Regions from separate parts of the Homo sapiens genome. Here region 1 is linked to region 2. The links come from fine-mapping of genetic effects on gene expression. Tissue or cell type: whole blood. Region 2 holds a variant in brackets; the other region holds the start of a gene. All regions are shown on one strand. Distances are from middle to middle.

Region 1 (8,106 bases), 61 kb after region 2:
GAATGGGGGCTGTACTGTGCCAGGTCACAGGGACAGAGCTGCCCAAGACCATAGGATCCCACCTCTTGCATCAGCGTGACCTGGATGTGAGACATGGAGTCAAAGGAGATCATTTTGGAACTTTAAGGTTTAATGACTGCCCTATTAGAATCTGGACTTGCAAGGGGCCTATAGCCCCTTTGTTTTGGCCAATTTCTGCTATTTCGAATGGTTATATTTACCCAATGCCTGGACCCCCATTGTATCTGGGAAGTACCTAACTTGCTTTTGATTTTATATGCTTGTAGGCAGAAGGGACTTGCCTGGTCTCAAATGAGACTTTGAACTGTGGACTTCTGAGTTAATGCTGAAATGAGTTAAGACTTTGGGGGACTGTTGGGAAGGTATGATTGGTTTTGAAATGTGAGGACATGAGATCTGGGAGGGGCTGGGGTAGAATGATATGGTTTGGCTGCATCCCCACGCAAATCTCACATTAAATTGATGAGATCCCATAATTCCCATATGTCATGGGAGGGATCTGGTGATAGGTAATTGAATCATGGGAGTGGGTCTTTCCTGTGCTGCTCTCATGATAGTGAATAAGTCTCATGAGATCTGATGGTTTTATAAAGGGGAGTTCCCCTGCACACACTCTCTTTCCTGCCACCATGTAAGATGTGACTTTGCTCCGCCTTTGCCTTCTGCCATGATTGTAAGGCTTCCTCAGCCATGTGAAACTGTGAGTCAATTAAACTTCTTTTGAAATATAAATTACCCAGTCTCGAGTATGTCTTTATTAGCAGCGTGAGAACAGACTAATATACTATGTTCTATGATAGATAAGAGATATAAAAGACATATTTATTAAATTTGCAAATGACACAAAAAGAATGGTTAACAGAATGTATAAAAGATTCAAATGCAAAACTATCTCCATAGATTAATGAGTTGAGATAAAAAAGAATCAGCTACATAATTAGAGGATGGGAGAGACCAACCTTAGTCAAAATCCATACAGGGTATTTTAGTGTGAGCCAATAGTTGGACATGACTGTCAAAATGCTTATGGAAGCTTAGGCTGAATGGATGAAAATATTGTGCCAAGAATTATGGAAAGGAGATAATGGTTTCATGGACTGTTCAGACCATAACTGGAATATTGCTTTAAACAAAATGGAAAGAGGGGATGACTGGAGATATTCAATAACTGCAGACATCAATAAAGGGTGATAGGCCAGGCGTGGTGGCTCACGCCTATAATCATAGCACTTTGGGAGGCAGAGGTGGGTGGATTACTGGAGGTCAGGAGGTCAAGACCAGCCTGGCCACCATGGTGAAACCCCATCCCTACTAAAAATACAAAATTAGCCAGGCATGGTAGCAGGGACCTGTAATCCCAGCTACTCGGGAGGCTGAGGCAGGAGAATCGCTTGAACCCAGGAGGCAGAAGCTGCAGTGAGCCAAGATGGCGCCATTGCACTCCAGCCTGGGCAAAAAGAGTGAAACTCCGTCTTGAAAAAAAAGTAATTAAAAAAAAAAGGGTGACAGATTTGGTGAAAATCTTGGAAACCATCTTATGCATCATGAGTAACTCAAATTTTGAAAACTGAATCATGACTTCCCATTGACTCTGAGGCTTTCATAACTTAAGTCTCAGCCAATAGTTCAACTGCAGAAAAGTGCCTTTCATCCGATTTTGGTCACATACATTCATCTTCTAAGTTCTCATTTAGTATCTTCATCTCTCATTATGGTTTTCAATGATAAATTTTAGTGTTCATATTTCAGTTCCCCAAAAAGACGGTAAACTCTGAGGCGTGGGAGATCAAAAGCCAGGCAGTTGTCAGAATCTTGCCAGTGTAAATTGACTTTAACCTAACAGAAATGATTCTTTTGGCATCACATTTGGGTGCCTCTATTTCCTCTAATCATAAATCTTTCTTCTACTCATTTCTTCATAGTAAAACCAAGAAGTCTGTGCTATCACTCCAACAGCACCAAGAACAGATATACTAGTGCAATATTATACACATAATAGGGGCTCCATTAATGCTTGCCAAATGAATAAAGACTGTTCCTATAAATTTTTTTTGAAAAAAAAAATCGTCTAGATGCAGTAAAGCTTTTTAATTTGCCAAAGAACAGAATACCTACCTAATAAAATAACTCTCAAATTCAATATTCTATAGAAATACAATCTACCAATCTGTTATAGAGGAGTTTTATCTCATGTAATATGCAGGAATTTGAAACCAAAAGTTGGTGCAACAATAGAAAATTTGAAAATAAATTCTGCAACTGTGCCATAACTTACTTTACATTCCTCTTTCCAGTCTCTAGATGTTGATATGCTAATGGAGATGTAATACAGTTACTGCTCTAATTTAAACCAGATACTTAAAATTGAAGAAGCTGCCTACTTGTTGAAGCTATTACCCTAATACTAGTAAAAATAATTGACCATTAGATCTAAAAGGGGCCTTGGATATTATCTGGTACATTTATCTCACAGATCAGTAAACAAATGAAACTTTATTCTAAAGTTCACAAAGACAATTAATTGCTAGGCCCGATTTTTAGTCCAGTCCTTTTCAAATGTGGTTTTGACTTGCATACGGACAAGGATGATGGTAAAAGACAGGAAACATTTCAAGTCCTAGGAGAAATGAGATTTTCTCCACTACTTTCTTTGCTCCCCACAGATTTAAGTAAGTTCTAAGAAGTCCCTACAGATGGGAGTAACTGAAGTGCTTCCTTTGCACGTTTTTGAGATTTGGAGAATTTAAGAGGTTCTAAGACCTATGTAAAATTTCAACTCAATTACATATTTTTTGGTTCATTATCTATCCACCAATTCTTCCTTCCATTTAAACCATTAGATCTGAAAAAGTCCTTAGAAACTGCCTAATAGTGGTAGATATTTCGTTTCACTGATCAAAAACCTGAGGCTCAAAAGCAAATGTAAATTTATATTTCATAAAAATCTTGGGGGAAAAGTCCTATCCTATCCCATTAGAGAGGGAGTAGTGCAGTTAGAAATACAACACCGAACTCCTGAAACCAAACATCAAGTATCCTTAAACAAGATAATAGAATTGTGATTTTTTTCTTTTCAACATGAAACTTCATACTATGCTGTATATCACATATAATTAAATTACACAATAATCACATACCGTATTAATAAGAGGTTAAGTGTAATATAATAAAATGGTCATCTCACAGCGCCAGACTGCCCTCTCTGTAAAACTGTGAGATGCTGAATACCTAGATATTTCGACCTTTTCTCTAACAAGTTATCCTCCAAGGCTACTTCATCGAGGCAAAAATACATTTTATTTATTATTAAAAATTCCAGTATATGTATGCTTAATTAATACTGAGTATTCCCCATTCTTGTTTCAAGTGATAGTCTTTGCTTATCCACATACCTAGGAGGCTGGGGAGGCTCCTTCAAGTCACTGGGTATGAGGTTATAAATGCACTCAGAAGAGCACGTTGGATCCATGGCCACCAAATGACTCCTTAAAAGCTACTCTCCACAACTTTTTTCTCCCTGTCCCAGTATCTCCGTCCCTTTCTTCACTGCTTCCCCTTTCTTTCTTCTTCGCCTTCTGAAGGACCACAGGTTCTCTCCTTCACATCGTCCCCCTTTAACCCCCTCTTAGCAGTCCTCTCTCGGGAAGAAAACACCCTATTTCTCTCCGGATTGCTAAGCGTCGTTGACTGTGCGGTTGCCGTGGAAACCGTTACTAGGCAACGAGGAAGTGGCAGGCAGCACCGCAAACTAGGTCTCCCCTCTTCCCTCTTTCTGCAGCGCCTTCTGCTAGAGAAGCTCATTTGGAAGCCACTGTTTTTACGTGCCTTTGAAAGTTAACGGGGTGAAAATGATGTCCCCTTAAAAACTGTGCTCTTTTCTATTTCTGTGTATCTGGGGAAAAAAGAAAAATCCTAGTAGAGACGGCAAAGCGCAGCTGGTGCGCAGGCGTCACCCAATAAGGTTTTTGTGAGCAGGCCCCAATCGCGGTGTGGGCGGAGCGAGCGGCTGAGACCACGAGGACGCAAGGCCAGCGCCGCCAGGGAGACGAGGGAGGGGAGGAGCCTGAGGAGATCGGAGTGCTCGGATAGGCTACAGTGAGAAAGGAGAGTCACGTGCCCTGCGCGAGGCCGCTCGGGGAAGGGCGTGGAGCGGAGGCACGCTGGCCGCCGCAGGCACAGGCGCAGAGTCCACTGCGCGGGGGCGGGACCGGGGAGCTAGCTGCAGGTACGGTGCTCCGTCTCCTGTGGAGGCTTTAGCGGCTCGTGGACACTGCTCCCCCATTTCCTTTCATTTCCCCCGTCTTCTCAGTGAGATTTCCTTGGTGAGTTATTGGAGGAGAAAGGAAGGAAAACTAGAAGCCAGCCCGCTCCCATCGCATGCCTTTCCCCGTACCGTCCCTTCCCCTTTCCGCTACTCGCTGGTCATCTCAACTCTGCGCGCATTTTTCCTGCTGCTTCTGGTCGAGGCTCCTCGGAACGCCGCGCAGCCCTGCCCGCCACGTGTGTGAGTGCGCGCACGGGGCCCGCGGCCTCCTCCGCCTGCTGCGCTCGCCCTCCCGCCCCTGCTCCCGGGACCGCCCCTTGGGCGGTCCTCCGGGTCGGCTCTGCGCCTGCTCTTCCCCGGGTCGGGACTCTTCCTCTAGGTCGTTCTCCAGGAACCAGTGGACCTGCTCTTTGTAAATGAGCAGCCTAAACTAAGAGGAGAAGCCTTTTAAGTGGGCCTTTACGTTTTTGTCCAGTTTTTGGTGTCCCTTGTTGGAAAATTGTCTTCTGAGAAGCGGTTTTATTCCTTTTTGTTCCACCTGGTCACCCGTAAATCTATGCACATGGGCCTGCCGTAGGAAAGTCATTTAGACGCTTTTACCCGAGTGTTTAAAAGACATTTTGGTAATAGGATTTGGGGAGGAAGATGGATGCCTCTGAACCACCGGTACAGAGGCCACTCTGCCCGAAGGAAATAAAGCTTCCCGGAGAGGAGAGAAAACACACTTGAGTCTGGGTTTCTCACTGCCTGGTTGGCTGGCGGAGTGATTAAAACAACACAATGGCCTGGTGAACCTTTTAGTTCCTGTATAAAAAGGCTTTACTGAATGTGTAGGTCCTTACTTTGGGCTCTTACTGAATTTCACTACATAAGAATACGTTAAGTTTTTCTTTTTTTTTTTTTTGTATACAGTTGATTTTAATTTTTGTCCCAGACGCTTAGGGAAAATTCTCCAGATTTCTTCACATCAGATTGTCTTCCAAAACATTTTAGATAGATGGATCTGTAGATCTATATTTAGATCTAGATCCAAATCTATATCACTTTGCCCCTTTCTTTTCGCCCTTGAGTATTTTATGTTTGGGATTTCTGTTTAGCAAGTATAGAGAAAAAATTTGGCGGGAAACCTCCTGTATGTACGAAGATTCGAACCAAGGACTCATGGAATGATAACGCCATTAGCCAAGTGGATAGTCACTGGCTAAAGCTTATGAATTTTCTAATTAGAAGGAACACCTTGAGACTATTTGTGTTAATCAGTTCCTGAAATAGCAAGTAAGGGCAAAACATGATTTCTGCAGTTAGCACCAACTGGCCTTTGGTAGCCTTGATGTTCTGGGGTTACTGAAATAAAATAATTTCACTGATGTCTGTATATTTATTATGCTTTAAAAAATGCTAAACAATTTGTGCAAGACCTCACTGTGGTATAGTTAGTTTACAGCCATGAGCAGGTTGTTAAATCATTTGGAAAAAAACTTTTCTTTTTTCTTAGACATTTGATCTGCAATTCTCCTTGCCTTTTGAAAGTGTGTTTAAGCAAAATTATTTCTAGTTTTTATAATGCTCTTGAAATGACACTTCAAAAAAATGCCTGTGTCCACCGCATGTCCACAGGGAATTAACTGGTATATACCTACAGGGATGAACAAACTGTCTATAAAGGGGTAGACAGTAAATATTTCAGGCCTTTTTAGGCCAAGTGGTTATGTTGCAACTACTCAGTTTTGCCATTGTAGCTCAAAAGCAGCCAAAGACGGTACTGAACAAATATGTGAGCACATGAATGACTGAAGTTGTGCTTCAAAGAAACTTGATTTATGAAAATGATGGTGGGCCAGATTTAGCCTGTGGATTGTAGTTTGCACAGATCCTAGATCCCCGTATATAATGGTATGCCTGTGATGTACATAAACAAATGAGAGTTGTTTTTTTTTTTTTTTTTTTTGCGAAGGATTATTTTAATCTATTTAAATGAATAAAATGGGTGTAGATGAGTATATAAGACAATTGGAAGGTAAATAAACCCTTTATAAAGACAGGTTCTTTATAATTCTCAAAGTTATAGAATTGTGGATACTAAAGTTTTCAATTAAATATTCGAGATCGTTAAGAATATGTCTAACAGCAGAAGTCTAACGGCAGAAAAAGCTTAGTCAGCTTTGATAGTAATATAAAGACTAAGTGATGAACTTGCAAAATTGTTTTAGTTGTGAGATCCTTGTGATTACAGAACTATACTGGATTGTGTGGTCCTTCCACCCTCACCTCTGTTTCATGGCAAGTGGGAGGCCCTCTGAATGAAAAGTTTGAGAGAATTTTTGGTCAGAAGTCAGAAGCAGTAGAGCTTAACCTCCTTTTGGCTAGTTTGTGTCCTGATACACAGTTAGTTCTCCATATCTGTGAATTTCCCATTCTCAGATTCAACTAATTACAGATTGAAAATATTTTAAAATTTTAGTTGGGCACAGTGGCTCATACCTGCAATCCAAGCACTTTTTGAAGGCCAAGGCAGGAAGACTGCTTGAGCCCAGGAGTTGGAGACCAGCCTGGGCAACATGGCGAAACCCCCTCTCTACTAAAAATACTAAAATTAGCTGGGTGTGGTGGTGCGTGCCTTTAGTCCCAGCTACTTGGGAGGCTGAGGTGGGAGGATTGCTTGAGCCTAGGAAGTCAAGGCTGTAGTGAGCCAAGATTGTGCCACTGCACTCCTGCCTGGGCAACAGAGTGGGAGCCTGTCTGAAAAACAAACAAAAACACGAAAATAATGGAACAGTAAAAATACCACAAACAAAAAAGCAAATTAGTACAACAGCTCTGTACCTAGCATTTGCATTGTATTATGTATTATAAGTTATTCAGAGATTAAGGTATACAGGAGGATGTGCACAGGTTATATGCAAATACTACACCATTTTATATAAAGGACTTGCACATCTGCAGATTTTTCTCACTCTAAAGTCAGTCCTATTAACTGCTAATTATCCAATATCCCTCTCAATGCTTAATCCAAATAATTGTTAAACACATGAAAGAGAAGAGTGTCAAGACCAAAAGCCTTGGAGTGCACTACCAGAAATTTCCCTCTATTCAACAGAACCATTTTTATGATCATTCAACAATATCCTCAAATCTTTTTTTTCCATTTCTCCGTGAATTAAAAAAATTTTAAATGAACCATGTGTAATGCTTTGGTGAAGTCCATATATATGCCTTCTATGTATATTCCCGAGTGGCCATTGCAGCAGACGTTCTCAAAAAAGAAATGAGGATGTCTTTTCCTCATTTGGTTGGTTAAAAAATGTTGAGCCCCTAAAATCAATTTGTGGTTAAATGTTACAAAATAAAATTTAGTATGTAGCTTAAAATAGAATATATCTTTATTGTTCTTTAGAAATAATATATATTATAGCACTTAACTGCCTTCTGCTAGTCTAAGGAACATGTTTGTGGGAAATAATATTGATACAGAATTTACAAATTGAACTGTCATAATTTTCTTTAAAATATATCTATATCTATATCTATATCTATATCTATATCTATATATATCTACCCCAAAGTCTTGAAAAAGGGAAGTGAAGTAAAATTTAAAAACAAGAGGGTAGAGGGGAACTAACATATAGGAAAAGTAAGATTGCAAAACATAAGGTGAAGGTAACATAATGTTTCCTTACAATCTACTTTTAATGAAGTTGATGTTAAGCATGGTAGCAAGCAATATAAAGCGGAAGAAAAGATGAAAGATTTACTGGGCCAGTATGGTGGTTCATGCCTCTAATCCCAGCACTTTGGGAGGCCAAAGTGGGAGGATTGCTTGA
Region 2 (8,106 bases):
AGGACAATAAACGTGTGGAATGAATAAATCAACTCCTCATCCTTTCAGAAGGAAAGGTCCTGCTGTTAAATTAAGCACTGAGCCCCACATTTCAACCTGACCCTTCTGTCTGAATGTGACACGTTTCCCTCCCCAGCCCACTTACTTTAGTTCAGGCCATTCATATTCATAAACAGATTATCTGTGAATGACAAGCTGATCCCTGGAAAGAGATGGCAAGTTAGCCCCACCCACCATCCTCACCACCATTGAGTTTCACACTGAACCTGACACAAGTTATAACCACCACCTTCTAGGAAAACCACTTCTCAGGGAGCAGGGAGGACGTGGCCACAAGGTCAAGAACGGGTTGGATCCTAGCACACTGAGAGATGGGTACCCTCTGGCTGACACCGTCAGGATTCTCAGGGTTAATGAGGCTCAGTTCTGGGAAACCAGCACCCCACACCCTCCCATCCGGACACACTGCTAGATATTTTACATGCATCCTCCCAATTGGCTCCAGAGCCCAGCTTGCTGTTGCTCCCTTTTACAGACAAGCCATAGGTCACTCAGGAGCCGCCAGCGTGTCCTAGAGCTCCTGCAGAGGCCTCCACTGCCAGAGAGCCCCCAACCTGGGTACCAAAGGCTTCAAATCTCAAGCTCTGTCCACTTGAGCTACTTTATTTCCTAGCTGCCTTCAAAACCCCTCAGTGTGCTTTTTAAAAACAAAACTTGAAGCCCGCCCTGGAGGAGTCAAGAGGAGACCCAGGAAGAAGGAGGCCTCCAGAGCAGCACGCGGGGGTCTCTGGGGCCCTGCCGGGCTCGCAGAAGCGACTCCCCGTGGCTCGCGGGGATGGGGACGGCTGGGCGCCGGCGGGACGCTGCAGGAGCGAGCTACCGGCCGGAGGACACGGGGGGACGCTGGGAACTCGGGGTGAAGGGACGGGACTCAGAGTTTCGTCAGATTGGGGGCGGGGAGAGGAGGCCCGGGTCCGAGGATGGAAGCGATCCCCGCCGGGAGGGAGAACAAAGCGGTGGCCCTCTCTCTCCCCCGACGCACGGCAAGCATTTAATCTACAAGCAGGGTGCCAGGGAGGGAGGGGAGCGGGCCGAGCCCCAAAATAGGGAGTTTGCATTTACCACGACGCCTCGCCCGTAGTCTGGCGCCTCCTCGCTGCTCCCGGCCATGTTTCTCCCGGGGAACGCGGGAAGGGAAGACGGCGCGGGAAGGAGCAGGGAGGGCGAAGGCTGCGTGGGGGATGGGACGTGGGGATGGGGACGGGGACGGGGACGGGGACGGGGACGGGGACGGGTCCGCCCCGCCCCGGGCCCGCCGGCGGGAAGCAGCGGCCTGACGCGGATCCATGGCCCCGGCGCTGCGCCCCCTCCCCTGGCTAGGCCGCGGGGGCGCGGGGAGCAGCTGCCAAGCCGCTACCGCTCCCCCTGAGCGCGGGCCCCGGACGCGTCCCTTGCGGCCGCCGCTGTCGCCGCCGCCCCCTGCCGGATGGTCGCGTGCAGCCCCCGGCCCCGCCGCCAAGCCCCGCGGGGACTCTGGAGCAGGAAGCCCGCGGCAGGAAGAGAACGTGTCCCCCAGGCCCCTGATTCCCAGATCCACCGTCCCAGCCCTCGGGCTAACAATCTCCTTGACTCCTCCCTGCCAGATTTCATGCACGCGATTGTCCCAAGCAGAAGCGTGAAAGAGCCTGTGAGCCAGCGTGCTCTTGGAGGATGGGAAGTGTCCTGGATGTGTTTTCAAACCTTGGAGCCGCCACCCACCTCTCTCCACCTCCGCTCATCTCCCTCCACCTCCCCTCACCTCCCTCCACCTCCCCTCACCTCCCTCCATCTTCCTCCACCTTTCTCCACCTTCCCCCACCTCCCTCATCCCAGGGCCTGGAGCTGGAAAGATTACACCCGATTGCTTTTAGGGTGGCCCGGATCTGCAGTGATCAGATCTGGGCTTTGAGGATCCAGCCTTTCGGCCTTTCGTCAACTGCATTCAGGGGAGGAGGGGGAGAGATTTTTACACATTCTCTGCTTTACCAGTTTTGCAAGAACATCTGGTCAGATTGTAATTGTTCCAGGTTGCAGCTTTACTAAAGCAATCGCTCTTTTCTGATTAGAAATCCTTCTTGTATGAGTCTGTTGTTCATTTCAACCCCTCTCACATGCCTATGCTCCGGTTCTTTGTCCACTCCTGTAGGTTCCTGCTTTTTCTGGGTGTGTCTTCATTCCCCAGGTCCCTGACATCTCACCAGCGTCTTCATTCACTCAGCCCAATTCGGGTCGAAGCCCTGAATCCAAGAGAACTTAACACAGTTTTCCTGATGCAGGCGTCTTTTGTTCATCTTCGAATTCTGGCACACAGAGGGGAGAGGAATGCTGATTTTGCCTAGTTTAAAGGGGAAATAGTTATCAATCGGTTAATGACGTTCTAGGTTGGAAAAATATTAGTCATTCAGACTTGGCGCCCTGGTCCTGCTCAGCAGGGCTGGCTCTTCATGTCGTTTCTAAGCGCCAGCGCCTTGGAGGGTGCAGCTCCAGAGATCCCTGAAATCAGGCATCTGCTTGGCAACTGCCTTACAGAAATGGGGGGTGTTGTTTCTCAGCACACGGGTAAACATTTTCTCCTAGTAATTGTGAGAGGGCGTTGTTTTGAGCCATTTTTGTAGTCTGCATCTCACTTCTTTTCCCCAAAGTCAAGCACCATCTTTTATTTTCATTTTCAAAGACCAGGCCCAGGAACCATATTCACAAGCAACATCATTAAAATTTCCAGGAGCAGAAAAGTGCTATCATTAGGATGATGATCAAACTTTAGAGTTCACAAGACTCTCCTGGGGAGCTGGTTAATGCAGCTTCACTGGGTGGGGAAGATCTGTGGAAGCACCTAGAATCCTGTACCTGCTGAGAGACACCAGATGGGTGTGATGTGGGTGGCTCATGACCCATGCTTTAGGGGATTCCACTAGACCATCTTACTGCTTGGATATCAAAACTTAGCCATGAGGCTCAGTGTGGGTGCAGGGCCAGATTGGGGGGTACCAGGAACTTCAAAATATGTCACAGGAGTAGTTGCCATACAGAAGTCAAAAAGCATCAACTTTGGTTCCAGCCTAGACACTGCGGAAGATGTAAGGGAAATGGTAGATAAATCTTCTTCCCTTAGAAAGGCTATTAGTTTAAACGTAAAATCCAACAAGTTCACAGTGAAAAATGTAACTTGCTTGAAAGACAACAGGAATCTTATGAATGTGTGCTCAAGAACATCCTACATAGACTTATATAGGTCATCCTATAAAGGGCACAGAATGATGAGTAAATAGTTTTTAAAAATCTAATTCATTTTATTATCTTTGTATATTTTGATAATACTTTGTGCGGTCTGATTACACTTCGATACTTTGGAGAGCATTAACATAATACAAAATAATACTTGATAACCCAAATAGTATTTGCAAAGACCGGTATCCAGAAATAACAGCTCATCTGTCCAAGGCTTTATTCTTAATCTTGCATTATGAGGATTTAGAGGCAAAAATTCTTTTTAAACCTCAAATTTCTGTTACATGTTGTATTAGTCTGTTCTCATATTGGTATAAAGAACTACCTTAGACCTGGATAATTTATGAAGAAAAGAGGTTTAATTGACTCACAGTTCTGCAGGCTGTACAGAAAGCAAGGCTGGGAGGCCTCAGGAAATTTACAATCATGGCAGAAGGCAAAGGGGAAGCAAGCACGTCTTACCATGGCAGAGCAGGAGAGAGAGAGAGCAAGGGTGTAGTGCCACATACTTTTAAACCATCAGATCTTGTGAGAACTCACTCACTATAACGAGAACAATATGGGAGAAATCCACCCCCATGAGCCAATCACCTCCCACCAGATCCCTCCCCCAACACTGGGAATTACAATTCAACATGAGATTTGGGTGGGGACACAGAGCCAAACCATATCACATGTCTAGTGGAATAGCTTTGGACTAGGACCTCTATTTTTCTGTAACAATCCATGTTACTTTAGCCAATGAGTCTAAGCCAATTATATCAGTGTAATATACATCAATTTTCTCATCCATAAAATGGAGCCACCCATTTATTCTCTACTGCATATGATGATGAGATGAATGTGAGATAACATGCAAGAGAATTCTTTGCAAAATGCTATAAAACTGTAAGATATTATTAACCTGACATGCTGTAAAAATGTATGACCAAATGTTTGTAAAATTATTCCATGTGAAAATGACAAGGAATTGTCTTTTAAGGTTGATGGGGCTAGGCACCATGGCTCACACCTGTAATACCAGCACTTCGGGAGGCCAAAGCAGGAGGCTCACTTGAGGCCAGGAATTCAAGACCAAACCTGGGTAACATTGTAAGACCACATCACTATAAAAAATTAAAAACTTAGCCAGGTGTGGTAGCGTGGCACCTGTAGACCTAGCTACTGGGGAGGCTGAGCTGGAAAGATTGCTTGAGGCCAGAAGTTTGAGGCTGCATTGAGTCATAATTGCACCACTGCACTCCAGCCTGGGTGACAGAGCAAGACCCTGTCCCTACAAACAAATAATAATAATAATAATAAAAGATTGACGTAAGGTGACCAATCAGGGATAGTTATAGTCCAGGGATAGTCTAGAGCTGGTATGAGAATGAATACAGAAAAATGATAAAATTATTAAAATAATGAGATTTTTCATAAAAAGGGATATTTTAGCTCAGACTGTCCATTTCCTTTTCTTTTTTTTTCCTTTCCAACTTTTATTTGAGGTTTGGGGGTACACACGCAGGTTTGTTTGGGAAAATTGCATGTCGCAGGGGTTAGGTGTACAGATTATTTCATCACCCAGGTAATAACCATAGCACCTGATACATAGTTTTTTGATCCT[T/C]ACCCTCCTCCCGCCCTCCACCCTCAAGTAGGCCCTGGTCAGACTGTCCATTTTCTAATATACCTTTGAAAGAGCTATAAGAATAAAGATGTGCATCTTTGCAAAGTTAATAACCAGTCAATATACTTGTATTTTTCTATCATTCTCTTTATTACATTTTAGCAGTAGTTTCTCTGCATTTTATTTATTTTTTTTTTTTGGTGTTTATATTGTGTTTACTTACTTTTTTTTTTAGTTTTATTTTTAACTGACACATAATAGTTATACATATTATCTATGGGGTACAGTGTGATATTCCACTACATGTATACATTGCATAATGATCAACTCAGGGTAATTAGCATACTCATCATCTCAAGCATTTTTCTTTTCTTTGTGGTGAGAACATTCAAAATTGTCTCTTCTAGCTGATTTGAAATATACAACACATTATTGTTAAATATATCATTCTGCTGTGCCATACAGCAGGTGTCCCCAACTACCGGGCTGCAAACTGGTACCAGCCTGTGGCCTGTTAGGAACTGAGCTGCACTGTAGGAGGTGAGTGTCAGCGAGCATTCCCACCTGAGCTCTGCCCCTGTCAGATCAGCAGCCGCATTCGATTCTCACAGGAGCACAAACCCTATGGTGAACCGCACATGGGAGGGATCTAGGTTGCATGCTCCTTCTGTGAACCTAACTAATGCCGGATGATCTGAGATGGAACAGTTTCATCCTGAAACCATCCCCCCTCAAAATCCGTGGAAAAATTGTCTTGCACAAAACAGGTCTTTGGTGCCAAAAAGGTTGAGACTACTGCGTTAGTGTACCAGAACTTATTCCTCTCATCTAACTATAACCTAGTACCTACTAACCAACTTCTCCTACTCCTGCCACTCCTCCCCACCTTTCACCTGACTCTGCTAACCAGTATTCTAGTCTCTACTTCTATGTGATCAACTTTTTAAAATTCCACATATAAGTGAGATCATGTCGTATTTGCCTTTTGTTTCTGGCTTTTCTTGCTTAACATAATGTCCTCCAGGTTCATCCATGTTGTTGCAAATGACAGGATTTCATTCTTTTTGTTGAGGTCTTATCCAAAAAATCCTTGCCTGGACCAATGTCATGAAGTGTTTCCACTATGTTTTTTTTCTAGCAGTTTCATCATCTCAGGTTTTACATGGCAGTCTTTATTTTGAGTTGATGTTTGTTTGTTTGTTTGTTTGTTTGTTTGTTTTGAGACGGAGTCTTGCTCTGTTGCCCAGGCTGGAGTGCAGTGGTTTTATCTCGGCTCACTGCAACCTCCGCATCTCAGATTCAGGTGATTGTCCTGCCTCAGCCTCCCAAGTAGCTGGGATTACAGGCGCCCACCACCACGCCCGGCTAATTTTTGTGCTTTTAGTAGAGATGGGGTTTCACCACATTGGCCAGGCTGGTCTCAAACTCCTGACCTCAAGTGATCTGCCTGCCTCGGCCTGCCAAAGTTCTGGGATTACAGGCATGAGCCACTGCATCCGGCCTTGAGTTGATTTTTGTATATGGTGAGAAAGAGGGGTCTAGTTTCATTCTTCCACATGTGGATATTCAGTTTTCCCATCACCGTGATTCTCTGCATTTTAAATTCTGTAATCATCCTGTGCCACTACCATGGTGAAAACACAAATATTTATAATTCACTGAATTCTCTGCCAGCCTGGAGGCTTTTGTCCTGGAAGTATATACTAATTTTTTTTTGACATTTTGGTAATTGACTTTTGTCAATACAAATCTGTAATTGAAGGAACAGTTCAGTCTATCCACTGAATTGTTCCTAGCCCGTCACTCAGTGACACTAGATTGGAAATACAGAAAGGCATTTAATTCTTTCTGCACTAGACTGGAAATACAGAAAGGCAGTTAATTCTTTCTGAGTCTTGAAACATGAAAGTAAATTAAAAAAAAAAACCTTTCAGTCTGGGAATTGTGTTGAAATCCATAAACATCTGAAACTTAGTGACTCAGATTGTTAGTCACAGAGTCACTGGTTAGAATCTGGATGAAATCCACTGTGGACAAAGGCCAGTAATAATGATGATGATATTTTGCTTTTCCATAGTGCCGAACAAAACTCTTTACAAATGTTACAAGTACAAAAGAAAGAGTAGCAAGACATTTTTTCTGCAAGTGCTCAGGCTAAGTAAGACTCTTGCTAACTTTGAAGTAGTTTATTTTTCCCTCTACATAAATACAAAAGAAATGTAGTGGCAAATAATTGCAACAAAACCCAACTTAAGCAAAGGCCTCATTAGTATTCAATTAGCATAGTAACCCGTCTTTCCCGGTCTCTTGTTTGAAGCAGACTGGATCCAATGTGTAGTCTTGGAGTAAAGAAAATAATATCTCCAGAGTAGGTCTTACAAATAAAGCCAAGGCTACACTCAATTGTGTTTTGTATTATTACACTTTCGTTAGTAATTCACCTTCCACTGAAGAACACACAGAGGGTAGATCTAAGTTTGTTCTCTTGCAATAATGTCAGACCTGAGGAATATCAGCAGTAAGCGCTGGGCAGTTTCAGAGATATCCTCCCACTATCTCCCCTTCTGACCGGAACAGGAATTGGATAGCTTCAGAGCAAAAGAATAATGTGTCCATGTGTTCCTCCAGATCTCTGAGTCCTGGCAGTCGACCTCAACTCTCTTGGCCACCATAAAGCAGTCATTGAAAGGACACAGCTGCAGGAACTAGGGACTAAGCAGTAAATAAATCCACAGGGCTGGAGGCAGAAGTTACGTACATGACCCTAAAACAATACTCTGTGGTTATGAACAAACTGATTAGCATCTGAGGGTCCTGTAGCAGCTTATGCAAAATTAATTGGTGCCTCAGCCAGTGCTGAGTTTCTAAAGGAAAGATGTCCACTTCAAAAACAAAAACAAAAAAAGGGGGGCCTCCTTAGTCAGCAGCAACTTTGCCTGGTGTCCTGGGGAGACGATCAGCTAGAATGGGAATGGAGCTGTTTATTCTCTTAGCTGTACATGGATTCTCTTCAGATCAGAGCTGATGTATAACAGCCACTGGCAATATCCCAAGACATGATCCAGTGATTGCCAGGTTATGGGTTGCATCTTAGAGTTAAGGTGAGAGGAGCTTGGGAAAGAGGTTGAGAGATGTGGCTTGAGAGTGGGAGAGATGGAGAAAGTAAAAGAAATTGGACACTGATCTACATAGAGCAACACTTCCCTAATTGTGAGTTTGATCCACTTTATATT

The links. PIP is the estimated chance that this variant, and not a neighbour inherited with it, causes the effect.
Region 1: THNSL1 starts here. The variant in region 2 is fine-mapped to the expression of THNSL1 in whole blood (TOPMed, PIP above 0.99).

What each region holds. Positions count from the first base shown.
Region 1 is chr10:25,012,447-25,020,552 of GRCh38, forward strand. It overlaps THNSL1 (threonine synthase like 1), which reads left to right and starts at 4,166. Exons shown (of 3, transcript NM_024838.5): 1 at 4,166-4,246. It overlaps ENKUR (enkurin, TRPC channel interacting protein), which reads right to left and starts at 3,712. Exons shown (of 6, transcript NM_145010.4): 1 at 3,414-3,712. The coding sequence starts at 3,490. RefSeq lists silencers at 3,718-3,767, 4,098-4,297, 4,478-4,557 and enhancers at 3,841-4,603, 3,914-4,208, 4,808-4,887.
Region 2 is chr10:24,951,406-24,959,511 of GRCh38, forward strand. PRTFDC1 (phosphoribosyl transferase domain containing 1) reads right to left here and starts at 1,201. Exons shown (of 9, transcript NM_020200.7): 1 at 1,123-1,201. The coding sequence starts at 1,170. It also overlaps a transcript of THNSL1 not described here. RefSeq lists a silencer at 1,362-1,551. The variant T/C (reference allele first, on the strand shown) is at 4,874.